4 linked regions of the Homo sapiens genome follow. The protein of the gene in region 4 interacts with the protein of the main gene of each other region in a pairwise test. Each region holds a gene or a part of one and is shown on either strand. Other genes may lie near its edges. The genes, in order: DIP2A, TFAP4, VWA2 and PTPN3.

Region 1 (7,373 bases), on a different chromosome or scaffold from region 4:
TTTTTTTTTTTTTTGGAAGAGGCAGGGTCTCCCTATGTTGCCTAGGCTGGTCTCAAACTCCTGGGCTCAAGTGATCCTCCTGCCTGGGCCTCCCAAAATGCAAACATAACAGGCCTAAGCCACCATTTCTGGGCTCAATACTTTTTTTGTTTACCCCCTTTCTCAGCTTAAGCTATTTTTCGAGGTTCCTCTCCATGTTACATAATCTTATACCTTTACTTACCTATACATCCCCTACATATCTCTAAGATGACAATAGCATAAATGGATCCAACAGATAGGAAACATTTCTTTCATTTAAGTACTTGTGTTCTGTCGCACAAATTATAAAGTTCTTTGAGGAAAGGATTCAATTGTCAATGCCTAGCAAGCACTCAAACACAACTACAACACAAAAAATTGAGGGAATAATGAATACATTGGAGCAGAAATTAGGAGCAATACGCAAAAATATGTTTGAAATGCACAGAATCTAAACTGCGTATATGTGATTTTCCCTAAAGAGCCTTAACAAATGCAGTACAGTAGATCCTGTCAAACCCATTCCTAATTTAAGTTTGTCAGACTGCCTAGGAGCATCTAATCACCAAGAATTCTCAAATCCATCCATTTCTTTCCTTTTTTTTTTTTTTTTTTTTTTGGTGAGAAGAGACAGGTTCTCGCTCTGTTGCCCAGGCTGGAGTGCTCCAGTGCTCAGGTGATCCTCCTGCCTCAGCCTCCCAAGTAGCTGGGACTACAGGTGCACACCACCATGCCCAGCTAATTTTTTTTAATACTGTAGAGACAGAGTCTTGCTATGTTACCCAAGCTGTTCTGAACTCCCGTCTCCAAGCCAACGTGGCCTCCCAAAGTGTTGGGATTACAAGCATGAGCCACTGTGTACTCAGCCTGTACTTCCATTTTTAAAAATGTGCCACAAGCCAGGCACGGTGGCTCATGCCTGTAATCCCAGCACTTTGGGAGGCCGAGGCAGGCGGACCACCTGAGGTCAGGAGTTTGAGACCAGCCTGGTCAACATGGTGATACCTTGCCTCTACTAAAAATACGAAAATTAGCTGGGCGTGGTGGCAAGCCCCTGTAATCCCAGCTACTCGGGAGGCTGAGGCAGAAGAATCATTTCTACCTGGGAGGCAGAGGTTGCAGTGAGCCGAGATCACGCCATTGCACTCCAGCCTGGGCAACAGAGCAAGACTCCGTCTCAAAAAAAAAAAATGTGCCACATGTCACAACATTGTTAAAAATCTGAATGCTGAATTCAAAATAGTTGCAAGTACATGTTGTATTATATGTAAAACAAGATCACAACAGCATCTACCTCCCTAAGGTTGGCAAGGATTAAATGACTTACTGTATGCTAGTGCATATTATTTAGATGTTTTGAGAAATAACTACCCCAGACCCAGCAAAATCTTATCAATCTGAAACTTAAATTAAGGATAATAAGATTATTTAAAAAATGGATTCTAAAAGCTGAAAATGCATTTAGATCTCAAAAACAGAGTAAGAATCAATTACATGCTTTTCTTCAAGGACTGCAAGTCCTTTCTGACACTGGAGAAGAACTTAACTCTTTCCCAAAGACAGCCAAAAGGAATATCAGGACACAGGCCTTGAAAGGGATAACATCCAAATGGGAAATGCCACCCACCACCTCTGAAGCCAGATTACTCCAGTCTATTTTTATCAACCAACCATTTATACGACTTTTTTTTTTTACTTTAAAAAATTCCATGAGGGGGCTAACAACTCCTAAGTGTTATGTGCTTTGCATATATTAAGGTATTTTAGCCTCATAACAATCCAAAATGGAAAGTGCTGGTATAACCCCACTTTATAGATAATAAAATGAGGCACAGGGTGCAGCTCCTAGAGTATGAGGCGCGCGGCAAGGGCTCCCAGCTCCAAGGGAAGTAGCTGCCTGCGGACAACGGGCGCAGTCATCCTGGTGAAGCCCAGACCAAGCCCAGACCTACAGCCTTGAGAAAAGCGGGGCTCACAGCTTGGGGCAAAAGTGGTCATTCCTCTCAAGATTCTCACACCTGTCCAAACGACCTAGTCAAAGCCAGTCCTTGGGGTCGGATCCCATTGGGGGAGCAGCTGGGGATAGGGAAAGGTCTCCAGAAGTTTGGCAGGCGTCCCGGGGTGAGGAGTAAGGGTCCCAGGTGTGAAGGGCCTGGGGGGAGGAGTCCTTGTATGGGGGAGGGGTCCTTGTATGAGAGGCGGGGCAGTGGTCCCTGGTTTGAGGGGCCGCGCGGGTGTCCCGGGGCTGAGGGTCGGGAGTCCGGAGGGGCAGCGCGGGGCTCCCAGGGTGAAGGGCGGGGTCCCCGGGGTGAGGGGCCGCGCGGGGTTCCGGGGGTGAGGGGCAGGAGGTCCCGGGGGTGAGGGGCGGGAGTTCCCGGGGGTAAGGGGCCGGGGTCTCGGGGCGAGGGGTCGTGCTGGGGTCCCACATGAGGGGCGGGGTCCTAGGGTTGAGGAACGGTGTCTCCGGGGCGAGGGGCGGGTTCCAGGGTAGAGGAACCGGGGTCCCGTTGAGGGGCAGAGGTCCCAGGGGCGAGGCCGCGTGGGGGTCCCGGGGGTGAAGGGCGGGGGTCCTGGAGTGAGGGGCCGCGCGGGGGTCCCGGAGTGAGGGGCTGCGCGGGGGACCGGGCTGAGGGCGGGTCGCGGGGGTTGAGGGCGGGGTCCGGCTCACCTTCCGACAGCTCCAGCTCCAGCTCAGCCAGGCTCTCCCGCACCTCGGCAGGCAGCGGCGCCGCCTCCAGCGGGCACCCGCGGTCAGCCATGGCCAGGCCGGCTAGCGTCCGGGCAGAGGCTGGAACCGGACCGGGCCTGGCGGCGGCAGCGCAAACCTCGGCTACGTAGCTCCCCTCAGGCCAACAACCTACATCCGCCAGGCGAGGAGCGGGAGGCGGCGGGACAGGGGCGCGGCCAGGACAGCAACGCACCCGCGCGGGCACGAGCGCGGATGGCTCCGCCGCGCCGCCGCTGCCCCGCGCGCTCCTGAGCGCCCGGCCGGCCCTACACGGGAGCGCGTGCGCGGCGGGAAGGGCGGGTAGCGAGCGCGCGTGCGCAGTGGGTCTCGGGCCCGCGCAGCCCTCCCGGCCCCGCCCAGCAACACCAGAGCCTCGCTTCCATTGGCCCCGAAGACGCGTCGATGCCGCTCCGGGCTCCCATTGGGAGAGGCGGGAGAGCGCCGCTCCCGACAGGCTCTGCGCTGGGCCTGCTTGAGGGTGGCGGGCTTGAGGCGGGCAGGCTGCTTAGTTGCGGCCCGAGGCGCCTAAGTGGGGATGACCAACCCGTGGGCGTTGGCGCTGACCCCTAGGCGCCGCTGGTGGCCCCGCGCGCGGCCCTCCGGCCAGCCCCGCCCCTCTCGGGGCTCCTCCTTGGTCCCCGCGCCATGGCGCGTCCGCGTTGACCGCTGTCTTCCCTTTCGGGCTGTGCTGATCGCGAACGCTGCGCAGTCCGTGGTGGCGTCGAGGCACCTTTCTCGTGCCTTTACCTGTGTTCACTCCTTTGCTTTAAAAAACAGCCCTAGAAGTACACATCGTTGGCCCCGAAGGAGCCCCAGCAGCCATGTCGGACCGCGAGGTGACCTTGGAGGGCGGGAGGACGGACGAGGGGCCTGGCGGAGCTAGACTGAGAGGGCGCCGCCGGCGTCCTGAAGGCCCTGCTCCCCGAATGTGTGGGAGTGTGTCTGACGGTGCGAGGGTGGCTGTGGCGGGGCCTGAGCAGCGTGTCCGTGTCCCGATGCCGCCCGCCTGTTACTGAGTTAGGCAGGAGTGCCCGAGTCTGGCGAACTTCAGCAGTTCTCGTTCCAGAGCTCCACACGAGGTTGGCCAAAGCTTTGCGGGACTTACATACCCTTCTTCCTCCGCCCAGTCCTGCTTCCTTCCCCTTCCTTTCACGGGTGTTGATACCATGTCAACATCCTCGTACCCCAAACTCAGTCGCAGCGTCTGCTTCTGGAGAAACCATTCTGCAGCATTAAAGCTGGTGAGAAGATGGGATTCGAGGCTGCATCACTCACCAGTGGTGAAGTAGGAGGGTGAACTAGTGAAATGGAATCCACGAGTGGGTGAAGTATCAGACATTTCATATATGGTGAACGTAGTAGATAAAAGGAAGGAAAGGGGGATTGGATAGCTATTGCTTAGTGCCAACCGAGACTCTTAAGAATAGTGGTCAGCTGAAGGCAAGCAACAAACAGTTGTAAGCCAGTGAATCTGTCCCGTTACATATAGAGAAGCTTCATTTACTGCAGCAGGTCAAAGACAAGAACCAGGCCCAGGAATTAACATCCCTGTTTGACTGAACTCCAAAAATAGCAAAACACCCAAACAAGGCAATACTCTTCCACTAAGTTTGGATCCCTGCTAAGAAAAGATGAGGCTGGGCACAGTGGCTCACACCTGTAATCCCAGCACTTTGGGAGGCCAAGGCGGGAAGATTGCTTGAGTTCAGGAGTTCAAGACCAGCTTGGGCAACATGACAAAACCCCATCTCTACTGAAAACACAAAAAATTAGCCGGGCATGGTGGCCACGGCTGTGGTCCCAGCTGCTTGGGAGGCTAAGGTGGGTGGATCACCTGAGCCCTGGAAGTCAGGGCTGTAGTGAGCTGTGACTGCACTCCAGCCTGGGCAACAGGAGTGAGACTCTGTCTTTTAAAAAAAAAAAAGAAAGAAAAGAAAAGCCCGTCATACATGGGTTGGAGATACCTGGGTAGATGCCTTCAAAGGTTTTGACTCCCCAAACTGCCTTAAACCTTTTTTTCGTAGACAGTGTCTCACTCTGTTGCCCAGGCTGGAGTGCAGTTGCTGGATCATGGCCCACTGTAGCCTCAACTTCCTGGGCTCAAACGATCCTCCCACCTGAGCCTCCTAAGTAACTGGGACTACAGGTATGTGTCACCACACCTGGATACATTTTTTATTACTTGTAGAGGCAAGGTCTTGCTATGTTGCCCGGGCTTGTCTCAAACTTCTAGGCTCCAGTGAGCCATCACACCTGGCCTGCCTTGAACCTGAAGCCTGCCGGGGTGGCTCACCTCTCCTATTAACCTGACACTACTCCTCCTCCCTCCACTTACTGCTCAGTAGATGTATAATTATGGTTGTTTCTTTTGCATTATTCAGCTGGAAACAATGAGATAGAAAAGAGAATATAGCTCCCTCCCCCTCAGAAGAACTGCGTTATTAGTTTGCTGGGGCTTCAGTAACAAACTGGGCAGACATTTATTGTCTCCCAGTTCTGGAGGCTAGAAGTCTGAGATCAAAGTTTTCACAGGGTTGGTTCCTTCTGGGGCTGGGAGGGAGAATCTGTCTCATGCCTCTCTCCCAGCTTCTGGTGGTTTGCTGGCAGTCTTTGGTTCCTTGGCTTATAGAGGCATTGTCCCAGTCCTGCCTTTATATTCACATGGTGATCTTGTTGTGTGTGTCTCTCCAGACGAAGGCATAAGTAACATCATTGACAAAGGTCATTCGACATGGGCCTCTTTTTAGAAGGACACCAGTCATACTGATTAGGGCCCACTCTAATGAGCGCATCTTAACTTGTCTACAAAGACCCATTTCCAAATAATGTCACATTCACATTGACCAGGGGTTAGGGCTTCAGCATCTTTTGAGAGGGACACACTTCAGCCCATAACAAGCTGTACCACCCAGCCAACATGTACTGACAGGAGCTGGGAAAGTTTGGGGCTGGATTATGAGGGTGCTTGATGAAGGGAGCTGGAATGTAAACTTGCATAGATGTGTTTATTGAAATACGTGATTTAACACCTTGGCAAAGAGTGGCTGCAGACTTCCTGCAAGGATGGCTCCTAGAATGGCGGTATAGCTACTGCTGCCTAACAAATTACTCCACACTTCGTGGCTTAAAACAAGAATCATTTCTTATCTCTAGGTTACTGTGGGTCAGACATAGTGGGGATCGGTGATCTCTCTAGGTTACTGTGGGTCAGACATAGTGGGGATTGGTTATCTCTCTTCCACAGTGTCTGAGGCCTCAGCTGGAGCAGTTCAGAGGCTAGAGGTTGGAATGAGTGAAGGTTCATCTGCTCGAATGTCTGACAGCTGATACTGGAGATTGGCTGCAGCCCAGATTGGGGATGTCAGCCAGCACACCCCTACACGGCCGGTCCCTGTGGCCGAGGCTTTCTCACAATATGATGGCTGGATTCCAAGGGCAATCTAAAGACAAAGGACAAAAGAAAGCTGTATCCTTTTTGTGAACCAGCCTCAGAAGTTGCATACCATCACTTCGGCTACTTCCTATTTGGAAGAAATGAGTCACTAAATTACCCATATTCAAAAGGAGAGGAATTAGGCTTCATCTTCTAAAGGGAAGAATATCAAAAAATTTGCCAGTATATTTTTAAAACACCACACTTGGAAAAAGCCATGGGCCATGGTAAGCAAAATTGAAATGGCAAAATTGCTATGGCAGACAGTGGTGGAAGGGAGTAAAAGGTTCAGGGGTGTGGGCATGTTGAAATTTATATACTCCGTGCATCTAGAAGACATTTGAGACGATCATATTCCACATGAAGGTGTAAATAACACGTCATTTATAAAGATCATTAGACATAGGATGATGAAAGGGGCACTGATGTCACTAAAATATTCAGTGATGGCTCATCTCTGTAGGCAAGAATGACAATAGAAAGGCTGTTCCAGAACTTGGCTGGGTGATAGCACTGGGGATGATAGGATCCTAAGACAAAAGAGGCCATTCTGGGACATAGTGGGGACCAAAGAAAAAAACCCAAGAAGCCAAAGGCAACACTTAGCTGGCAGAAGTCAGAGGATTGCAATTATAGCAGCCAGCAGGGTCTGAGTGGCAGCCAAGGGGACCTCACTTGTATGGTTATAGAACTGGTCAATAAACATGGCATCCCTGGAGGCAAAACAGGTGGGCAGCTAAGAAGGGTACTACTCAGCTGGCAAAAAAAAAAAAAAAAAAAAAAATCCATCCAGGCACGGTGGCCTGTGCCTGTAATCTCAGCATTTGGGGAAGCTAAGGTGGGAGGATCACTTGAGCCCAGGAGTTCAAGATTACAGTGAGCTGTGGTTGCACCACTGCACTCCAGCCCGGGCAATGTGGCAAGACTGTCTCAATTGAAAAAAATAAATAAAGATGCTTGTCCCAGTTTTAAAAAATCAGGATTCCATGCCCAGCTTCTGGAACTGAGCCAGTTTTCAGAAATGGAAACATTACTTGAGAGGTGGCCAAACACCAGGAAGAAGGACCTATAACAGTACAAGTACAACAGAAATGAATCCCCAGGTACTTTTCCAAAGGGTCTGATAGCAATTTCTTTTGATAACTACATCCTGGAGAAAAGTGATTAGCCAAACATTTGGAAGACTTGTGG
Region 2 (7,023 bases), on a different chromosome or scaffold from region 4:
AAAATTAGCCAGGTGTGGTGGTGCATGCCTGTAGTCCCAGCTACTCAGGAGGCTGAAGTGGGAGGATCGCTTGAGCCCAGGAGTTGGAGGCTGCAGTGAGCTATGATCACGCCACTGCACTTCAGTCTGGGCAACAGAGCAAGACCTTGTCTCAACAACAACAACAAAAACCCATCCCCTCCCTGGCTTTCCTCACAGGGAGCAGTCTCTCCTCCGGAACAGAATTCCCAGTGTGTCTGAGCATCAAAACATCCAAGAGCTTAGAAACTATGCAGACGACGGGTGCTGGCCCCAGCGTCTGACTAGCAGGCCCGGTGGGGCCCAGAAACGTGCGTGGTGTGATTCTGATGCACGCGGGATGCAGACGACATTCAGGGACGCTGTCCCCGCTCCTGGAACACTTCTGAGTGATTTGCTAGGCACCTGGAGCGCCTCTTCAGCGTCTCAGGCTTTGCCACCCCAGGACTGAGGAAGACGTCCCCACTCCCTTCCTACCCTCACGGCCACGCCTCCCACCACAAGCCCCAGCCCCGCTAGGCTAAGACTTCACAGAAGACAAGTACCACTCACTCCCCAAAAAGACACCAAGCCAACAACCCCTGGGGACACGGCTCCCCACAGCCCACCCACTCCAAGAGATAGACCCACCCTGCGCCGGAGAAGCGAGGCTCCCACCATGCTGTGGGGAGCGCTGCTGACCCTTGCAGGAGCAGTGGCCAGTGCGGTGAGAAGGCAGCCTGGGGGAAGAGGGCGTGGCTGCTGGCTGGGGGCGTGGCTTCGGACGAGGGCGGGGCGTGTGCGCCAGGGGGCGGGGCTGCGGGCCAGGGTGCAGAGGCAGCGGTTGTGGGCCCAAGGCCACGCTCCCGAGGGTTGGGCTTGTGTGTGGCCTGGAGGAGGCATGTCCCCCTCCCTGGACCTCCCCTGCAACTCCCCCCGCCCCTGGCCTGATGGCTTCCAGATGCTGGGCTCTCAGCAGAGGCTGCCGGCCCCACCCGAAGCCGCAGCCCCGGCCTCTTCCTGAGGGGCCCTCCCGGGGTGCCCTGTTCCAGGACTGGGCCAAGGGGGCTCATGCCCCTGAATGTGGGAGAACAGGAAAAGGGTTCTGGGCAGCTCCTGCTCCATTGATGAAGGCAGTCTGGGGTCAAGGGGCTGCCAAGTCTAACTCCCCTGCTGTGTGCCCTGGCCCCTTCGCCAGCCTGCAGGCGGAAAGGAGTTTGCACGGACCCCGGAGGCAGCACATCTGCAACAGCTGGAAACAGCCGTGGCCTTCCTGGCCCCACCCAGCCTGCCCATCTGTCCAGCCTTGGCTCCCTGTGGGACCCTGGACGCATCGCTGCCCCTTCCCCGGCCTCGGCTTCCTCTCCCAATAGAGAGGTGTCCAACGCCGGAAGTCTGGATGCAAATCAGCCTCCTTCCGTCCTCATCAAGCCAAGCCCCCTCCTCCATCAGGACCCAAAGGCCCAGGGCCTGCACCCAGGGTACAAGTCTCTTACAGGGTCTTGAAATGTCCGCACTGCAAAAGGGGCCCGGGCCCCCCACTTTCCATGAGACTTTAGGGTGCAGGGCAGAGAGGGGATGGTTTTAGGGTCGGTCAGCTGGATGTCAGTGCTCTCACTTCTCCCGGTTCCCCTGCCCTGAAGTGGAGGTGATAGGGGGACTGGAGCAGGCCTGCTGCACGGCTGTGTGTGGCCCAGCCTTAGGGCGGAGTCCAGGCTCCCAGGCCTGGCACAAACTCAGACCATACCATGTCTGAGAGGCCAGCAGGCCAAGGGGACCAGGACTGCTCTGCAGTGGGTGGCTTAAAGCTGGGGCTCTTTGGAGGTAAGAGGTGGGAAGAGATGTCCATAGGAAGCCACAACACAAGGTAAGTGCAATCTTGAGGCATCACCATCCCCCTCAGGAGAGATGTGGGGAGAGACCCCTGCCCACCCAGCCCCTGGGTCCCTCCTGGCAATGCCCAAAAGCCAGAGCTGACTAGGGGGTGAAAAGGGAGCACCAAGTCCAGCCTTGGGCCACCTGAGAGCTGGCCCTCCTGGAGGGTCCACAACAGAGGGATACATTTTTTTTTTTAAGTTTTTGGCGAGAATTTTCTCACTGAATTGTCACAATGTTCCTGAGTCAGGTGGCCTGAAGACTCCCATGTAAAGAGGGGGGCACAGAGGTTTGGGTAGGGTCCAGCTGCAGCAAGCGCTGGGCGTGAACCCTGACCCCAGAGCAGGTGTCAGGCCATAGGGCAGAATGAGCTCTGACCGGCCCACAGAGCCAGATGCCCCAACTGGCAGGTGACAGTTATCCCTGTAAAAGAGAAGACTAGGCCGGGCACAGTGGCTCACACCTATAATCCTAGCACTTTGGGAGGCCAAAGTAGGAGGATCGCTTGAGCCCCAGAGTTCAAGACCAGCCTGGGCAACATAGTGAGACCCCATCACTAGAAAAAATTAATCAGCCAGGCATGGTGGAGTGTCCCTATTGTTCCAGCAACTGAGGAGGCTAAGGTGGGAGGATGTAATAAGCCCAGGAGGTTGAGGCTGCAGTGAGCTGTGATCATGTCACTGTACTCCAGCCTGGGCAACAGAGTGAGACCTTGTCTCAAAAAAAAAAAAAAAAAAAAAAAAAAAGGACCAGGCATTCGGAAATCGCTGTAATCGTGTAACTCTTTTTATTATTCACAGACCTCGTTGACATTTTTCCCTGCCTGATTCTCACAAAACCCAGTGGGGTGGCCGAGATTACAGTGAGCAAGCAATGCAGGGTCGTGGGAAGGAAGGTGATGATCCCAAGGTCAAGTAGCCAGACCTGGCACAACAGCAACCTGCAGATGCCAACCCACTGAAGCGCCTCTACTGACTGCTAGTTCACACAGCCCGCCACTTATCAGAAGCGGGTGTGTGACTGCAAGCTCAGCCATCACCCCTGCCCCTCTGAACACAAGCCCACAAGTGAGGTGACTTGCCCAAGGTCACACCCAGCAGCTGGGCAGGGCAGGGTGCAGCCAGATGCACCCTTCTGCACCTCCCGGCCCAAGTCCCACCAACTCCTCTGCTCTTGGGAGCTGACCCTCAGCCTCTTCCGTCCCTTCCCCGCAAGGCAGCCCACTAACTGGGAGACCAAAGGAGACCACCAGACCCCAGTCCCGAAAACCCCAGCCGGAAGTTCTCACAAGGAAGAGGAGCTGGGGCTGGGATCAGGGGCCTGTGTCGCCTCCTCCTCTGCATCAGAATCTGCCGGCCCAGCTTCTCCAATGCTCCATCCTGCCTCCTTCCTCTCCAAAGCCATCAGCCCAGTCTCCTGGCTCAGAAACCAGCTGCTGGCTAACCTAGTGCTTAACTTAGGTTAAGCACTTTCTTAAATCCAAGAAAGCAAATTTCCCCCCAAAAGGTACAGTTCCTCGTGGGACCTGAATCTGCCACCAAGACCCTCAAATATAACTCACCTAAATTGCCCTGGAAGTACCCGCCGACAGAGTCCTTTAATAGAATGCATTCTAACCAAGGCTTCTGATTGGTGGAATAGGAGCTAACCAGGGGTTGTGATTGGTGGAGTGCCGCTAACCAGGAATTCTTATTGGTGGAATGCTGACCAACCAGGGCTTCTGATGGCTGACCAACCAGGGGTTCCTGTTGATGAAGGATGGTTGATTGAAATTTCCAGGTGATACTGCACTGAATAAAGTGGATTTTTCTGCAAATGCCTGAAAGTTTCTGATAGCTCTTTCTGGGGTTTTGCATTTACGGTTAAGGTCTGTAAACGTCCTACACACACAGTAAAGGTCCACTATCCTCTCTCTGGCCACTTCAGACTCCTCCAGGTGAAAATCAAAGGTGACCCAAGTCCACCAACACCGAGGTTCTCTTTTTTCTTTTGACTGAGTCTCGCTCTATTGCCCAGGCTGGAGTGCAGTGGCACAATCTTGGCTCACTGCAATCTCTACCTCCCGGGTTCAAGCGATTTTCATGCCTCAGCCTCCCAAATAACTGGGATTACAGGCGTGATCCACCAAGCCTGGCTAATTATGGGGGGCGGAGGGGGGGTTGAGATGGAGTCTCGCTCTGTTGCCCAGGCTAGAGTGCAGTAGCACAATCTCAGCTCACTGCAATTTCTACCTCCCGAGTTCAAGCAATTCTCATGCCTCAGCCTCCCGAGTAGCTGGGATTACAGGGACCCACCACCACGCCCGGCTAATTTTTGTATTTTTAGTAGAGATGGGGTTTCACCATGTTGGTCAGGCTGGTCTCGAACTGTTGACCTCAAATGATCCATCCGCCTCGGCCTCCCAAAGTGCTGGGATTATAGGCATGAGCCACCATGCCCAGCCACACCAAGGCTCTCTTGCTTCTTGCAAGCCAGCCTCCTGGGTCCAAACAGGGGCTGCCCTAGATTTAGGAATAAGGTCACTGAGCAGCCAATGGCCAAGGAACAAAATTTGGGCACCAGCCTTGGATGCTAAGGCAAGAGCCGCCACACCTACCACCACAGCACCCACAGAATCTGCTGAGACTGACGCTGGCGTCCCAACCAGACACTTGGAGGCATGGGGCATGCCCTTCAAGTCTAGAACCCTGCCAGGTACCTATCCCTCCTGCCCAGGCCAAAGTCAAGTACCCCCAATCCCTCTACACCTGCCTGCCCAGCTCCAGCCTCAAACCGGCCACTGAGAACTTTCATTTCACACTGCCCTGAAGTCACTCACATACCTCAGGGTCACTTAACATCTACACAGTCAACGTGGGAAAGTCCACACGGGATTCTCCCAAACCCAAAAAAGCACTAAGGCACTCATCCTTCTCTAACCTAATCAGCCCGAGGTTCTCATCCATGCTCCATCCCCGCTGCTTCTACACTACTCACCCATACTCTGTACTCTGACCTGGCCAGTCTGCTGCCCTTCCCCTCGGTCCCAGAACACACCATGCCCAGGCTGTTGCCATCAGAAACATCCCTGCCTCCCTCCCTTCCCCAAAGCTCCTCCAGCCCATCAGTGGGAACCCTGCACTGGGCTCAAGTGAAAAAGTCCAGCCTTGCCACTTACTAGCTGTGCAACACCAAGCCTCGGTTTCCTCCGTCTGTAAAATATGGAAACACTGCTTCACTTCACAGGGTCATGGTGAAGTTTAAAAGAGATCAAGAAAGGCCAGGCACGGTGGCTCATGCCTGTAATCCCAGCACTTTGGGAGGCTAAGGTGGGCAGATCACCTGAGGTCAGAAGTTTCAGACCAGCCAGGCCAAGATGGTGAAACCCCCTCTCTACTAAAAATACAAAAATTAGCCGGGTGTCGTGGGACGTGCCTGTAATCCCAGCTACTCGGGAGGTCGAGGCCCAAGAGTTAGTTTGCACCCAGGTGTCCAGGACAACCCATGAAACTCTTAGGGGGTCTACAAGACCTTTTAAGACCACAAGGCTGTGAGCTGCTGAGGACAGGAGTCACATCCTGTTCATGGCTGTATCCTCAGTCCCGGCAGAATGTTGTTGCTTCATAAATAAATCAGGGACCCAATAAACACTCCAAAGCCTTCAATTTTCTTGAACTCCTTCTTATGGGAGCTTTTTAAGTTTTATTATTTTTTTAATTTATTTTTATTTATTTATTTAGAGGCAGGGTCTCACTCCCGTCACCCAAGCTGGAGTGCAATGGCATGATCTCGGCTTACTGTAGCCTCAACTTCTTGGGCCCAGGTCGTCCTCCTTCCTCAGCCTCCCAAGCAACTGGGAGTATAAGTGCACACCATTCACACCCGGCTAGTTTTTTGTATTTTTAGTAGAAACAGGGTTTCGTCATGTTGCTGAGGCTGGTCTCGAACTCCTGGGCTCAAGTGATCCTCCCGCCTTGGTCTCCCAAAGTGCTAGGGTTACAAGAGTGAGCCACTGCACCCAGTCTTACTGTTTTTTTTAAGAGACAGGGTCTCTGTTACCCAGGCTAGAGTGCAGTGCTATGATCATAGCTCACTGCAATCTCCAATTCCCAGGCTCAAGCCATCCTCCTGCCTCAGCCTCCCAAGGAGCTGAGACTACAGGCACATGCCACCATGCCGGGCTAATTTTTTTATTTTTTGTAGAGGTGGGGTCTTGCTATGTTGCCCAGGCTGGTCTCGAACTCCTGGGCTCAAATGATTTTTTCCCCTTGGCCTTCCAAAGCACTGGGATTACAGGCTTGAGCCACCGAGCCAGGCCTAGGAGCTTTATGATACAGACAGAGGCCAGGCGCGGTGGCTCACGCCTGTAATCCCAACACTTTGGGAGGCCGAGGTGGGCAGATCACGAGGTCAGGAGATCGAGACCATCCTGGCTAACACAGTGAAAGCCTGTCTCTAATTAAAATACAAAAAATTAGCCGGGCGTGGTGGTGGGCGCCTGTAGTCCCAGCTACTCGGGAGGCTGAGGCAGGAGAATGGCGTGAACCCGGGAGGCCGAGCTTGCAGTGAGCCGAGATTGCACCACTGCACTCCAGCCTGGGCGACAGAGCGAGACTCTGCCTCAAAAAAAAAAAAAAAAAAAAAAAGATACAGATGGAGAGTCCGGGCACGGTGGCTCACGTCTGAAATCACAGCACTTTGGGAGGACGAGGCGGGCAGATCATAAGATCAGGAGATCGAGACCATCCTGGCCAAAATGGTGAAACCCCGTCTGTACTAAAAATACAAAAATTAGCCGGCCATGGTGGAGCGGGCCTGTAGTCCCAGTTACTTAGGAGGCTGAGGCAGGAAAATTGCTTGAACCCCGGAGGCAGAAGTTGCAGTGAGCCGAGATTGCGCCACTGCACTCCAGCCTGTGCGACAGAGTGAGAGTCCATCTCAAAACAAACAAACAAACAAACAAACAAAACACAAGATATGGATGGAGACTACCATATACCTGCCCATATACCTGCTTTTAAGACTCAGTGGCTGGGCGCAGTTGCTCATGCCTGTAATCCTAGTACTTTGGGAGGCCAAGGTGGGCAGATCACCTGAGGTCAGGGGTTCGAGACCAGCCTGGCCAACCACTATGGTGAAACCCCATCTCTACTAAAAATAAAAAAATTAGCC
Region 3 (7,023 bases), on a different chromosome or scaffold from region 4:
ACTCCCCAACAGGTAATGACAGTATTGACTTTTGGATGTGAGATGCAAATTATGAGCAAGGCCTCTTCAAAGCTGAAAGTTTACATGGGAAACCACAGCCTGTGTCAAAATGTGGCCCATTCTGAAGCGTCTGATCTATGATTCCCTGTGGTCCATGCCTGAGCATCTCATTGCTTTCCTTATCAATTATTACAAAGTGCAGCTAAAACCACATGACCTCCTTCCCAGGGTTACAGAAAACAAACAAGGTCTTCATGTGATCATGTATTCCAAGAGCTGGATAAGCAGCTGAGTGTGGTCACAACTGGGACTGGCATTTTCTTGTCCTTTTTGCTTACAAATATTAATCTCTTTCTTGATGGCCACATCATTGTAATTAAAATATAGACTTTTCAAAGGCAGAAAAGATTGAGGCTAAGTCTAGGCACTTCGCTGGGGCTGCTGTTGTATCAGCCAGAAGACTGTGGAAATAGCTGGGGGCTCACTGAGATCGACGACAGTGGCCTTTAACTGAGCATCTATTATGTGCCAGGGACTGTGCTAAGCACAATACACGCATGGTCCCATTTCATTGTCACAACCTTAGGTAGGAACTATAAAAACCCTATATGACAGATGAGGAAGCTGAAGCTCAATGAATAGAAGTCACATGCCCCAGGTCAGATCATTGGTAAGAGGCAAAGCTGGGACTGAAAGCCATTTCACTCTAGTTTCCAAACCGGAAGTCCTCAAACCCTAATTTCTGAGCAGAAACAGCTCCACTCTCAGATTCTCCTGTGCTTCAGAGGCCGTGGTGCTGGAACTGTAAACCTTGTGAACATACTGAAGGGATCACCTAACCCCAAATAGGGACACTCGCTACCCTGCCTGTGTGTCTAACTGCTCGCTACCCTGCCTGTGTGTCTAACTGCTCGCTACCCTGCCTGTGTGTCTAACTGCTCGCTACCCTGCCTGTGTGTCTAACTGCTCGCTGCCCTGCCTGCCTGTGTGTCTAACTGCTCGCTGCCCTGCCTGTGTGTCTAACTGCCGGCATTGCTTCCGGGAGACAGGCTACTCATCGGGAGTAACAAATCCACCCCAGGACTGACACCTACACATTGAAGGGCAATTTCAAGCTCCCAGGTCAGTGGGGTCACTAGCACCCCAAGTGAGGGATAGTGAGGGCACACTGGTGAACCATGCTGAATGATGCATAATGGCATCGATGATTCCTCACGTTAATTTGGGATTTTACAGCTGAGGGATTACTTCCATGGGCATTATCTACTGAATCTTCACTAGGACCTCATATACGATGACCCCCTTTCACATGGAGGAGGGAAATGGGCTTCCAGACATCGGACAAACCACTATGTTTTATAGAGGAGGAAATCACTCAGATATCTTGCCCTGAGTTTGGTGCTGGCTTTGAGGATGTCTGCAAAGCTGGTGCTCGGTGCCTGCCTCTCTGCCTCTCACCAATGCACACAACACTGGTTCAGGGGAGTAATCCCAAAGCCGCCACTCCATTCTTAATGAGCAAACACCATTGAGGGAGTCAAGAGCACACTCTCCTCTGCCCCCCAAGTGCCCCATCCCTCTGCCCTGGAGCCAGTCACAACCCCACCCTCTGTCCCAGGATTGTAAAAGCCACTTTACAAAGCAGCCTGGGCCCAGGGCCCTGAAAGAACCTGTAAATCCAAGAGACAGACCATACCTGGGCAGGTGGTCCTGTAGCAGGTGGCAGGGTGGGTTAGGAACACTCTCTTCCAGCTACAATCCAAGGAAACAGAATTATAGACAGATCAGAGGTGTAAGGGGAGGGCAGAAAACAGAAGATGATTTACAACACCAAAAGCTGATAGAAGATTCCAATGCAGAAGTAAGAAAGACTTCCTGGTTTTGTTTCTTGATTCTACCCTAACTTTTCTCTGCACATAGAGTAGGGAATGTTTCAAACTATCCAGTGACAATTAAAAAAAATAGGCTGGGAGTGGTGGCTCACGCCTGCAATCCCAACACTTTGGGAGGCCAAGGTAGGCAAATCACTTGAGGTCAGGAGTTTGAGACTAGCCTGGCCTACATGGTGAAGCCCCGTCTCTACTAAAAATACAAAAATTAGCTGGGCGTGGTGGCATGTGCCTGTAATCCCAGCTTAGCAGGCTGAGGCAGAAATGCTTGAACCCAGGAGGCAGAGGTTGCGGTGAGCCGAGATTGCACAACTGCACTCCAGCCTGGGTAACAGAGTAAGACTCCATCTCAAAAAAAAAAGGTAACATAAGCTGGCTATCACATTTGAAATTAGGGACATCCACATGCAAAACCCCAAACTGTAGCAACAGCTTTTTATTATAAGTTACTTTCTGAGGCTTACGATGCAGTAGGGAGAGAAATATTGGGAACTGGGCAACTGGATTTTGGCTGTGTGACCACAGACATGTTACTTTCCTCCTCTGGTCTTCACTTTCCTCTTTGTATAGTAATTCTATCTTCACTTTTCAACTGTATTCCTTAAAGCTTCGATGGGGAGAGAAGAGCACTGAAGGAGCAAGGCTCCAGGCCTCCCGCAGTGCCCCAGCCCCGCCCCTCCACCCCAGGTGTGCTGCTACTATCTGGTCCACACAACAAGTGTCCACACGAGGCTCTGCAGGTCAAGACATGTAAGCCACTGGACTCAATGACTTCTCAGGTCTGCTGGAGAACTAACGTTCTGTGATAACACAGCAGCCACCATTCCTTGGGTGGCTTCCACCTGCTGGTGTTCCATGAACCACAGCTACCTGAAGAGATGGTTCCCTCCATGTTCCAGATAGGGAAATGGGTTCTGAGGGCTCACTTAGGGCCCCTGAGGTCACATAATTACCGGAACACAGCAGAGCTGGGATCCAAACCCTGACCATGACTCCAAATCCCCCCACTCTACCCTGTGGGCCTCACCCTCGCCTCTCCTGCGTCTCCGGGGCCATGTGCCCTGCTGTCACAGGAGCGGTTCCTCATCTGGGGGCAGAAAGCCCCACTCTGGGTTGGCAGCAGCTCCTGGGATGGCCTCACCTGAGGAGACTCTTGGGCCTTGGCAGAAACATTCCCTAAAGTTCTCCAAATAAGGCTTCTTCCAACAAGATCCCACCCTGGGCTGCCCACACAGGGGCAGGCCAATCAGGTGCTCCTCTAGGGCAGGGTCTTCCCTGGGGTAAAATGGAGTACACGCCAAGTCAATTCAGAGCTCATGGAGTTGCTGAAATAAAGGTTGCCAAGGCTGGGCGTGGTAGCTCACGCCTGTAATCCCAGCACTATGAAAGGCGGAGGCAGGAATTGAGCTCAGGAGTTTAAGACCAGCCCGGGCAACATAGTGAGACCCCATCTATAAAAAAAAATCTTAAAAATTAGCCGGCCACGGTGGTGCGTGTCTGTAGTCCCAACTACTTAGGAGGCTGAAATGGGAGGATCACTTGAGCCTGGAAGTTTGAGGCTGCACCAAGCCATGATTCTGCCACTGTACTCCATCCTGGTGACAGAGCAAGACCTTGTCTCAAAAAAATAATAATAAAAACAAAGTTTGCCAAACTGCCAGCTCATTCAAGAGAAATCGTCTTCTCTTCCATGTCTATCCTAGTGACCTCATAAAGCCACAAGTCCTAGCCCAGAAAGATCCCTGGGCCCTTCCCCCTCCCTGATTTAGGCTTCCCTGGGAATCAGCATTTATGGAGCAGACACTACCAACAGGGCTTTGCAGGGACCTGCACACAGTTTGCCCCCCACCTCCCTCAGGTCTGGACACAAATGCCACATGCTCTGCAAGGCCCTCCCTGGCCACTCCATTTCAAACTGTGACCTTGCCCCAACCCCCCGCCTACCCCACCGCATCCCCATCTTGCTGCTGTGTTCCTCCACAGCACCTGCTACCACTGAACAGTTTATTTTCTGTATTCATTTTGGAATGACTGCCTCCCATTACTGGAGCGTCAGCTTGTGAGGGTAGATGTGTTTCTGAGATGCTGGTGCTGATTTCCCAGGACCTGGGTGAGTGCCAGGAGCACAGGAGGCCCTCAGTGGGTATTTCTTGAGTGAAGAAATGGGTGAAGAGCTCCCAAATGCTTCATTCTAGGAGCCTGCAATATTAACACATCTACCTATTAAATCACCGCCTGTTCTCAACAAACCTGTAGGGCAGGTATGATTATTATCACACCCCTTTTCAAACATAGAAACATGCAGTGGTAAGTTCACCGCTCCCTAGTGGTTCTGCTAAGATTAAAAATTCAGCAGCCTGAGAGCAGAGTCTGAATGCAAGGCCCAGGAAGTATACACTGCAGCCACCAGCCTCTTCCAGCCGCTCCCGGCTCTGAGCGCCTTGCCCACTGCCACAGTTCCAAATCTTGCAAAACTGCTCGAGCAGCCCCTTCTCTGTGACATCCCAGAGAGGACAGACTCCATCCCAACACCTAGGATGCCTCAGGGTGGCCGCTGGTCTCCTTTTCCAATGCCCTCCTCTAAACCATGATTCCTTGGGGGCAGCAACTGTACTGTCTTCTTATTGCACATTGCCTGGCTCTGAGCAGGCACTTAGAAAGTGGCCACCAAGGAACGAATCAACTCCTCCTTTCACTTGAGAGGTTGGGTTCTGAGGAGAGCCTCTGGTGGCCCCAGAGTGGCATGAGACCTCATCTCCTCTGACCCTTATGTAGGGGGCTGGCCTTTCCCAGAGAAACAGTCTTTGGATTCTCCATCAGCCCAGCACAGCCCTAAGGCTTCTCAGCCAATCCATTTCACTGCTGTGTGCTGTGCTGTGAGCTCATCGCTGGGGGAGGACCAATGGGTAAAGATGCAGCTGATTCAAACACTGCCCCGGCCCCCCAGAAAGGGAGAGGGGCAGGGTCACCAGTCTCCGGACAGAGGTGCTGAATGGCAGGTAGTCTAAAGAAAGTGCCCAGGAACAGTGTGGGGAGTGTTTGGGAGGGATGGGTGGGCAGACGGGCAGCAGGTGCTCTTGGGTGCCTGGGCTCCAATCCCAAAGAACCCAGCATCCCATAGCCTCCCTGACTGGAATTCATCTGAGGATCTCTATCCTCTTGCCTCACTCAGCCCCCATAATGTGGAAACTGGTGCTCAGAGGAACCAAATTACCAAATCAATATCCCAAGTGCAGACCACCGCCCTGCAGGGCCAGCACTTGGCTCACTCACCAGCCTTCCAGAATGCCTGTGACCCTGCCACCAGTGCTCACCCTGGGTACCTGGGCTGTGTGTTAAGGGATGCTGACACTGAGTAGCTGTGCCTCTCCCTGTTCTCCCATGGCTACGTCCCTGGCTCCCTCCCAGGTCTCCTTCGATCCCTGTCACAATCTCCATGGCAGGGCCCCAAAGTACTATCCTCCCCGCAGCTCAGGGGTGGGGGCCTTCATCTCCACCCAGGCCGAGCCCAGACCGCGCAGACAAACCTGTAGAAGGGACAGTGTGCAGCCAGCACCGCAAGGGTCCGCCGCGATCCTCTCCAGCATGGGGCATTGCCAGCGAACTCCCGGACCATCTCCAGCGTCCTGTGCTCACAGGGGTGAGCCTCGACCCTGCAGTCTGTGTCCACAACACACACCCACACCCACGGAGGAGACAGGGTTCCACCTCCTCCTGCCACACACGCTTCCCCAGCAGCTGCTCCCGCTCCTGGGAGGTTCCACCACACTTCCAGGCTGGCCACTTTCTGCTCTCTCAGGTCAGGGCATATCTCTGGGTGAAGGGCCCTGCTCTGCCTGTTCAGCGGGGCATCCAGTCTCTGAGCATCTCCTCTGCTGGGCCCCACCCCACACAGCTTTTGCGTAATGGGCACACATGTACATTCCACATAACGTCATCAATGTGGCTCCTGGGTGGACCCTGACAAGGACGACTAGAATGCAGGGATCTCGCACCAAGCACAAAGCCTCCTTGTGCTCCTCTGTGTGGTCCAAGGCAGGGGGAGGAGACTTGGCTCTGTCTCTTGAGCAGGGGACAGGGAACCTACTACATTTGGGTCTCAAACCCTGGGCCCCTCTACCTCCATGAAGACAAGCTCGGGGCTCCCAGCTGGGAAACCCACAGGGCAGGGCACAGGGAGACGCAGAGCATCCAGGGTGGAGGCTGCCGGTCTCTGTTTCTCTTGCCTGCCCTCCATCCTTGGGAGGCTCCTGGGTCCTGACCTCTTGCCTCAGGGAGCCCTCCCCGACCCCACATGGCACTTCCACTCCCTCCAGGCTGGAAGATCTTACCTGGCGTGGCGCTGGAGCAGATGGCCGAGCTGCTGAGGGTGCTGAAGAGGCCGTTGGTGGCATCCTCCACCTGCTCAGCCAACAGCACGTGCTGCCCTCTAGGCTCGCTGGCCAGTGCATGCAGCTCCTCCCACCTGTGCCAAGGGGTTGTAACAGCTTGTGGTCCTATACCCACCCTCCTCCTGCCCCCTCATCTTCTAGGCCGTGGGTTCCTTGTGGATGGCAGCACAGATTTAGTGTCTGGTTTTGTCAGACCCATAGCTGGTGAGGAAAACAGTTAACCGGAATGGAAATGAAAGAAAGTGGTTCGAGGTGACAGCAAGCAAAGAACAAGCAAGCATAGCTGGTAACAGAAAAAAAGACTGAGGAATGATAAACAATGGACGTAAGAACTCCAAGGCCAGCAATAGGAGGCCATCTAGAGGAAGCGGCCAGCACACCTCGATAGCCATAGGGCAGCGCTGTTTGTGCCAGGAGGAAAATGATGTACAGATGGTGACACTAGGACATGAAGAAAGGGTTAGGCGATGTTGAGAAACCTCATTTTAAGAAGACACACAGTCGGAGGGGGGGTGTGGTGGCTCACGCCTAATCCCAGCACTTTGGGAGGCCGAGGTGGGTGGATCACTTGAGGTCAGGAGTTTGGGACCAGCCTAGCTAACATGATGAAACCCCATCTCTACTAAAAATACAAAAATTAGCTGGGTGTGGTGGTGGGTGCCTGTAGTTCCAGCTACTTGGGAGGCTGAGACAGGAGAGCCACTTGAACCTGGGAGGTGGAGGATGCAGTGAGCCGAGATTGT
Region 4 (7,023 bases):
CTTTGTTGCCTCTGGAGGATGAAGAGGGCTTTTTCGCTTGCCCTCAAATGCTCATTTCTGAGGTACCCCCCCCAGAAAAAGGTCAGGTAGCAACACAGCAGCAATAGTATCCACACTAATCTAAAAGCATATTTAAATATGAATTACTGTGGTAGGAAACGAAAGACAACTGTGTGATCCAACCACTGCCCCCTAACCAAAGTTGCATTTTTTTCTTCTGGAAAGTCAAAACACCAAGTGCAGGTTCTAGAGGGTGACACCAGCAGGGATCTCTCATCTTGATTAAATTGGCACATCAACATGTTTAATTAGATCTTTCAGAAAGTGCCAGAACATAGGATGTAAATGTCTTCTCCATTCATATGCAGCCAAATTTCCCAGGCAAAATACTTATCCTGATTCTGATGTAGTTCTTCACTTAGGACTAAAAAAAGGCTTAAGTATAATTGCTTAAGTGTATAAGGTGGTGAAACAGGAATCTTGAGCTACGGATTTTAAGTGGTAATAGCTACAGGATTTACTTGAATTGTTTGCTCTTTTAGGTAATTCTCTTGTCTTGTTCTTCCCAGTATTTCCTGGATTTGTTCCTGGCAACCTCGCTGGGTCTGAACTGCTGGCCTGCCCAGTGGCAGAAGACTGCTTGCAACCTTTGGTAGGCTTTTTAGAAATTTATGTGACCGTAATGGCTGCATTTCTGCAACCATAATAAACAATTTGTTTTTGGAAAAAAGCAGTAAAACACCCATCTCCAAAGACATTTAGACTACTTTGCAAGCATTTTGCACACAGGGTGATGATGCATTTTTACCAAACAGTAATAACTTGCTAAATATCCTAATGGCATTTAAATTTTTGCCAGCGTTCCCTCCATCCCCCTTTCTTGGAGCTTGCTGAATTTTTGTGAGTCCAGATTATTTTGTGCTCTTGTTCTCTCTCTTCTAGAAGAGCATTTTCTATTTTCCTCTCATAAAAACCCAGTTAGGCTGGGCACAGTGGCTCACGCCTATAATCCCAACAGTTTTGGAGGCTGAGGTGGGAAGATCACTTGAGGCCAGGAGTTTGAGACCAGCCTAGGCAACACATCAAGATCCTGTCTCTACACACACACACACACACACACACACACACACACACACACACACACACACACACACACACACAAGCCAGGTGAGGTGGCATGTGCCTATAGTCCCGGCTACTCAGGAGGCTGAGGTGCGAGGATTGCTTGAGCCCAGGAATTTGAGGCTGCAGTGAACAATGATCATGCCACTGTACTCCAGCCTGGGCGACAGTGAGACCCTGTCTCTAAAAAGAGAGACAAAAATCCAGTGGATTCTATTTTTGACTGATGTGTTTTTGGGCTAATCACTGATAACTAAACTTTTCTAAGTAACTCACCCACAGCAGTGTCTGTTGCTGTTCTAGCCGATAAAAAGTCACATGAATAGCGTGATCTTATTCAATCCTCATGTTCCAACTAAAGTCCTAAGTATTGTTTCTATTTTACAGATAATGAAAGAGAGGTAGAGCTTCTAAGCAACCAGGCCCGCAAGTAGTTAGTGCTGAGTGGGCGTAGGAACTGAATCCCCTGCCCCTTAGCTGCAAACTTTCTGGTGGTTTCTTGTTTTCAATATGGGGTTATGGTACTGTGTGACATCTCCCTCCCACCTCTGCCATTTAGCAGTAAAATATCCATGTGGAAAAGAAACAAAGTATGCAAGTAAATATGCTAGCTCTAGAGATAAAGAATCTCCCATATAGGTCTTCATCCGTCTTGCTACCAGCAAACTATTCAATTGGCACCGAATTTGCTGAATATCAAAATGGCTTCATTTATGTGCATTATAATATGAAAACATCTTTTCTATAAATACCATTAAGAACCTGGCTTTACTTCCTCTTCTGAGTACATAAAAACCGCTGTTCAAAAATACCACATTAAATGTTTACACAATTTATTTTCCTTAAATAATAATTTGCTACAATCCTGTCACAAATTTAAAAAAATTTAACACGGTATTCACAAAGGCAGAATTCTTTAGGACAATCAAAATGATGGTGTTCTTAGAATAAATTAACATCAGATTGTGTTTATATTCAGATAGTCTGATCCTCTCCTTTGAAATGCAATGGAGACCATTGTGACTGGGGGTGAATGCACACATTTGTTCTTCCATACAGAGACTCATTCTTTATATATACTCAACGGTAATTTGAATCGTTAGGAATCCTGAGAAACACTCACCCCTGGGCACACACATGTACACAGCCCCACGGCCAACCCTCCAGAAGCTGGGTTTCCCATGGTTCAATTACTAGAAGCTCTTTTCTCAGAAGGCCAAACATTCGGAATATTTAGATGACACTGTCCCATCTCCCCTTGGGAAAATCATAAGGTTTCAAGTGGAGGAGCTTGAAGTAGCAGCAATACATGTAGGAGATTCAGTAGTCGGTGATTCCAGTCCTGGGTGCTGAGTGTGCAGTAGGAGGCAAGCAGAGGCAAGAGACACACCTGCTTCTACAACTAAGCCACAAGATGACCAGAACACACTGAGAGTACCAGTTCTCAGAGCCTCAGCTGAAAATTCACCTGAATGCACATTACTAATCCAGGTTAGGCACCAAGAGGGAACCTGAAGAGGGACACAATTCTCAGAAACATGAATATTGGAAGTCGCTGGGAGATGGGACAAAGGGAGGGAGGGCAGAGAGGTGTTGCTCAGCCTTCAGCCTGACCCCCAGTGCCCTGCCATCTAGTACATACGTCAGGGTTTCCTTAGCATCAGGGCGGGTGAATCTGAATTGTTCCAGCTCCACCTAGAAGCACAGAAAGCTCAGCCCTTACAGTCTGACACACAGAAACAAACAAAACATCCAAATGACCCAAGATAACCACACCATCTTGTTGCTGGGAGGACAACAGCTCTGTGGGTGTCCGGTCTCAATTGCTCCAGGATGCCGACAGGGGTGTGTGTGGTGATGTTAGGGAAGAAGGCATTAGGACAGGCCCCAAACTGAGATCCTTTTTGTATCTTTCCATAGAAATACAGGCCTAAATGATGCCATAATTGCATGCTTATCTACACCAGTTCCTATGTACACGATATCTTTTCTATAGAAGTTTAAAGTGCCTGGGTTCAGAGGTGCCCATTCCTTTCCCACAGCTACTGGTTCCTCTTGCTGCTTCCAGAGAGGTCTGTCCTCCTCTTTCAAGGAGGATGCCCTTGGGAAAGAGGAATGAACTTTTTCACAGTTGTCTTAACTAGGATCCAGCATTTGGACTAAACCTTCTTCATACACACGAAGAATCGCTTCACACACAAACTTGTACTGGCTCTGGAAAAGAAAAAAATGCTGTCAAGTCCTGTAGCTCCAGGAAATGCTGCCTACCACACCCTGTACCGGTGGGTCTTTTGCAGCATTTGTAAATATTCCCTGAGCGCCAACTCTGGGCCACAGGCCAGGTACACCTGTGAAGCCCTAGTTCCTATATGATGCGGGGAGGGGGCACTCCCAGAGAGGGGTGGGCAAAGTGTCATGGAGACATGACAGAGGGAGAAACTGGCGGTCTGGGGGAGGTGGGAAGGAGCAAAAGTCCCTGCGGGACAGCCCTTCTTGTAAGTGGAAGTGTGGAAGCCTCAGTAAGAGCCCATTTTGAGAAACGGGGTCAGGGAGCCTGCTCCTGGACTCAACACCTAGGCATGTGGAGGAGGAGGGGCTGCACAGGTGGGCTGGGACCTGGTTGTGGGCACCTTGTGTTGGGGTAAGGAGTCTGGATTGTGTTTTACAAAGCAGAGCCACTGAAAGATGCTCTGCAGGATACAGTTATTTATCTTAGCAAATACCTAAGAAACATATTGTAGCAAAGTATACAGGGGGGATAAAAGCATTTAGACTGAGCTTCTCCAGCTAGGAAAATCTATCTATCTATCTATCTATCTATCTATCTATCTATCTATCTATCTATCTAGTTTTCAAGACAGAGTCCTGTTCTGTCACTCAGGCTGGAGTGCAGTGGCGTAATCTTGGCTCACTGCAACCTCCACCTCCTGGGTTCAAGCGATTCTCCTGCCTCAGCCTCCCAAGTAGCTGGGACTATAGGCACATGCCACCATGCCTGGCTAATTTTTGTATTTTCATTAGAGACGGGGTTTCACTATGTTAGCCAGGCTGGTCTTGAACTACTGATCTCAAGTGATCCACCTTCCTTAGCCTGCTGAAGTGCTGGGATTATAGGCGTGAGCCACCGTGCCCAGCTTCCAGCTGGGAAAATCTACCAGGATGATGGACTTTTTTCTTTTTAACCAGCCACGAGGTCTTCCATACCAAAAAACAGGGCAGAGAATGGCCCTAATAACATAAGCTGATTTTTTTTCTCTTAACAAGATTTTCTGGGTACAAACTAATATAAAACTACCAAAGCTTAAAAATTTATTAGGGAAATCTTATAAACTTTGTCCACAGCCTGTGAAGAGACAGAGCTGGTTGGAACATATAGTTCCTGCTCCTTTCTTTGCTAACTCCTCATGTACCCTGGGGGTTTTTACCAGAGAAGACACTTCTCCAGGAAGCCTTCCTAGACTTTCCAAATCCTGCTTTAGATACTCTTCCACCATGTTCTCAGACAGCCCTGAACTTCCCTCACCGCTGCTGACACTTAGCATAGACTAATCCAGTTCTCCTACTAGATACAAGCCTGTCTCTGCACCCTTCTTTGTCAAATGAATGAATGAATGAATGTGGGATGGTCCCCATTTTGCACAGGGAAGCTGAAGCTTGGAGAGAGGTTCAGGACTTATGCAAAGGTTGTTCCATTTGTGGTGGGACCTTAATCATGCTCTTTCCACACCGCTTCACTGCCCCGCTTGCAGTTCCAGGGGAAATCCCCAAGAGTTATCCCCTAGAGTTCCTCTTGAGGACAAGAGGATGTTGCACATGACCCTACTTTGAGCTCTGGCCTGCCCGTGGAGGACACAGCAGGTACTCAGGCACCACACGGGTGGAACAGAGCTCAAAGTAGGGTCATATGCAACATCCACTGAGCCAAAAGGAGTACCCAGGTCTAGGTGGGTCGGTGCGGGGGAGGATAATGGACAAATGATTGTTCAACGATACAGAATGCAACCAGGGCTGCTCCCTGACAGACGGGCTGGCAGGAAATAAACCACAGAGGCAGCAGAGCTCAGAGGTGAGATGGGTGTGGGCTGTAGCCACTGACAAGCTCTGTGACCTTGGGCAAGTGATTCAGTCCCCCTGAGCTGCAGTCTGTTGACTCACAAAGCCCTTCTCTCAGGCCTGCCTGGTGTAAGTGCTCAGAAAGTGCCAGCCACCGTAATTACTGGATTTCTACTCACTGATGTCTGCACCATCATGGCGCGCTGGTCTCGCATTTTTCGGACAATATCCAGTGGGTAAATGGGCAGGTTCCTCTCAGTTAGGCACATGGCTGTTTCCATAGTGACCAACACACCGGTTCGACCTATTCCAGCACTGGAGAGGGGAGAGAAGACAGACTTGGGATTTGTCTGAGTAGCCTTTCTGCATGGCCCAGCGAGCAGTTCCCCGCTGACTCCAAAGGGGCTTTCCTCCCTTGGCCTTCGAGAAGACAAAACGCACACTCACGGCGTGCTCTCAAACAGGCTGAGACAGCCTGTCCTCACACATCTGAGACTGGGGGCTAGCAGGCAGTGGAAAGAGGGCCACTGTGAAGTGCCAAACCTATTCCCTTTCTCACTCACACCTATGACGAAGGTCAGCTGACAGAAGGACAGGAGAAAGGGTGTGTGAGGGGATTTTCTTCTTCAGTTCTGTGCTACATTCACAAAGTTAGGATTTCATAAAATTCCAAAAAACTTTTGAAATGGTGAAGAACCACAGTCAACAGAGGTTTGTAAGGGCACACGACTTTGTGGGATGTAGGGTGGGTCTGGCGCCTGCCAATTGTCTCCAGGCCTTTTCCGACAGGGAAAGGATTCCAAACCTAACAAAACAGCAAGCGCCATACCTGCAGTGAACTAGGACGGGCTCGCTGTCCACTCTCAGAGACCTCACATAGTTTACAAATTCCAGAAAGTCGGAGGAGTCATCGGGCACACCGTGGTCAGGCCATGCGACGTACTGGAGATGTGTCACTGTGTGTTCTTCCCCGGTCTGTGGGAGATGCAGTGGCCTTGGTGAGCCCATCCAGGTGGTGAGCATGAGGACCCAGCCCCAACCCAGACACAGGGTGGCCCTGTCTCCTGATGCTTTCTCCCTCTGCGCACAGCCCTGCTGTGGCCCCTAGCAATTCCTCCCCTCCTTCCCCAAAGATCCCCATCCCCTCTCAGGCTCAGCTGTGGGCCTGTCCTGCAGGGCTGCCTTCCTTGATCACTTCTGCCCAGTGATCTCCTCTGCCCAGTGATCTCCTCCATTTGCTGCTATGGTACTTGCCATTAGAGGCCACACATGCTGACTGTTTTTTTTTTTTTTTTTCAACTGTGGCAAAATATACTAACATGAGGCTTACCACTGTAACCACATTTAAATGTACAGTTCAGCGGCATTGAGAATACTCGCAATGTTGTAGAGCCATCAGCACTACCTATTTCCAGAACTTTAAAATATCCCGCAAACATAAACCCTGCACCCATTATGCCATATGGCAAAATGTCCATAGATGTCCTTTCTCCTCCTTCCCCAAGCCCTTGGCAACCACCGTTCTACTTTCTGTCTCTATGAATTGGACGACTCTAGGCACTTCACAGAAGTTGAATCCTACAGTATGTGTCTTTCTATGTCTGGCTTATTTCACTTAGGATAATATGCTCAAGGTTCCCCAGTGTTGTAGCAGGGGTCAGAATCTCCTTCCTTTTAAAGGCTGAATCATATTCCATTGTATGGACAGACCACGTGCTGTTTATCCATTCCTCCATCGATGGACACTGGGCTGTTTGCACCTCGTGCCTGTTGTGACTAGGGCCACTGTGAACTCTGGGCCCTGGCTCTTTGATGGGCAGTCTTGCGCACTTACTGACACGCTTGCCA

Evidence for each region.
Region 1: the proteins of PTPN3 (region 4) and DIP2A interact in binary tests that used the Homo sapiens proteins (3 or more experiments, as listed by UniProt).
Region 2: the proteins of PTPN3 (region 4) and TFAP4 interact in binary tests that used the Homo sapiens proteins (3 or more experiments, as listed by UniProt).
Region 3: the proteins of PTPN3 (region 4) and VWA2 interact in binary tests that used the Homo sapiens proteins (3 or more experiments, as listed by UniProt).

The regions. Positions count from the first base shown.
Region 1 is NC_000021.9:46,454,539-46,461,911, reverse strand, and holds the start of DIP2A (disco-interacting protein 2 homolog A), read right to left. Parts: upstream 3,022-7,373; 5' UTR 2,781-3,021; coding exon 2,690-2,780; intron 1-2,689. UniProt on the Homo sapiens protein: Catalyzes the de novo synthesis of acetyl-CoA in vitro. Promotes acetylation of CTTN, possibly by providing the acetyl donor, ensuring correct dendritic spine morphology and synaptic transmission.
Region 2 is NC_000016.10:4,263,019-4,270,041, forward strand, and holds part of TFAP4 (transcription factor AP-4), read right to left. Parts: intron 5,187-7,023; exon of another isoform or gene 5,030-5,186; intron 3,913-5,029; exon of another isoform or gene 3,484-3,912; coding exon of another isoform or gene 3,434-3,483; exon of another isoform or gene 2,673-3,433; intron 1,865-2,672; exon of another isoform or gene 1,332-1,864; coding exon of another isoform or gene 649-1,331; intron 1-648.
Region 3 is NC_000010.11:114,277,245-114,284,267, reverse strand, and holds part of VWA2 (von Willebrand factor A domain-containing protein 2 precursor), read right to left. Parts: intron 6,355-7,023; coding exon 6,221-6,354; intron 5,550-6,220; coding exon 5,417-5,549; intron 3,544-5,416; exon of another isoform or gene 2,644-3,543; coding exon of another isoform or gene 2,497-2,643; intron 1,756-2,496; exon of another isoform or gene 1,753-1,755; coding exon 1,697-1,752; intron 1-1,696. Other genes in the region: AFAP1L2 (actin filament-associated protein 1-like 2), read left to right, coding at 2,497-2,643.
Region 4 is NC_000009.12:109,376,298-109,383,320, forward strand, and holds part of PTPN3 (tyrosine-protein phosphatase non-receptor type 3), read right to left. Parts: intron 6,151-7,023; coding exon 6,005-6,150; intron 5,491-6,004; coding exon 5,355-5,490; intron 3,337-5,354; coding exon 3,259-3,336; 3' UTR 1-3,258.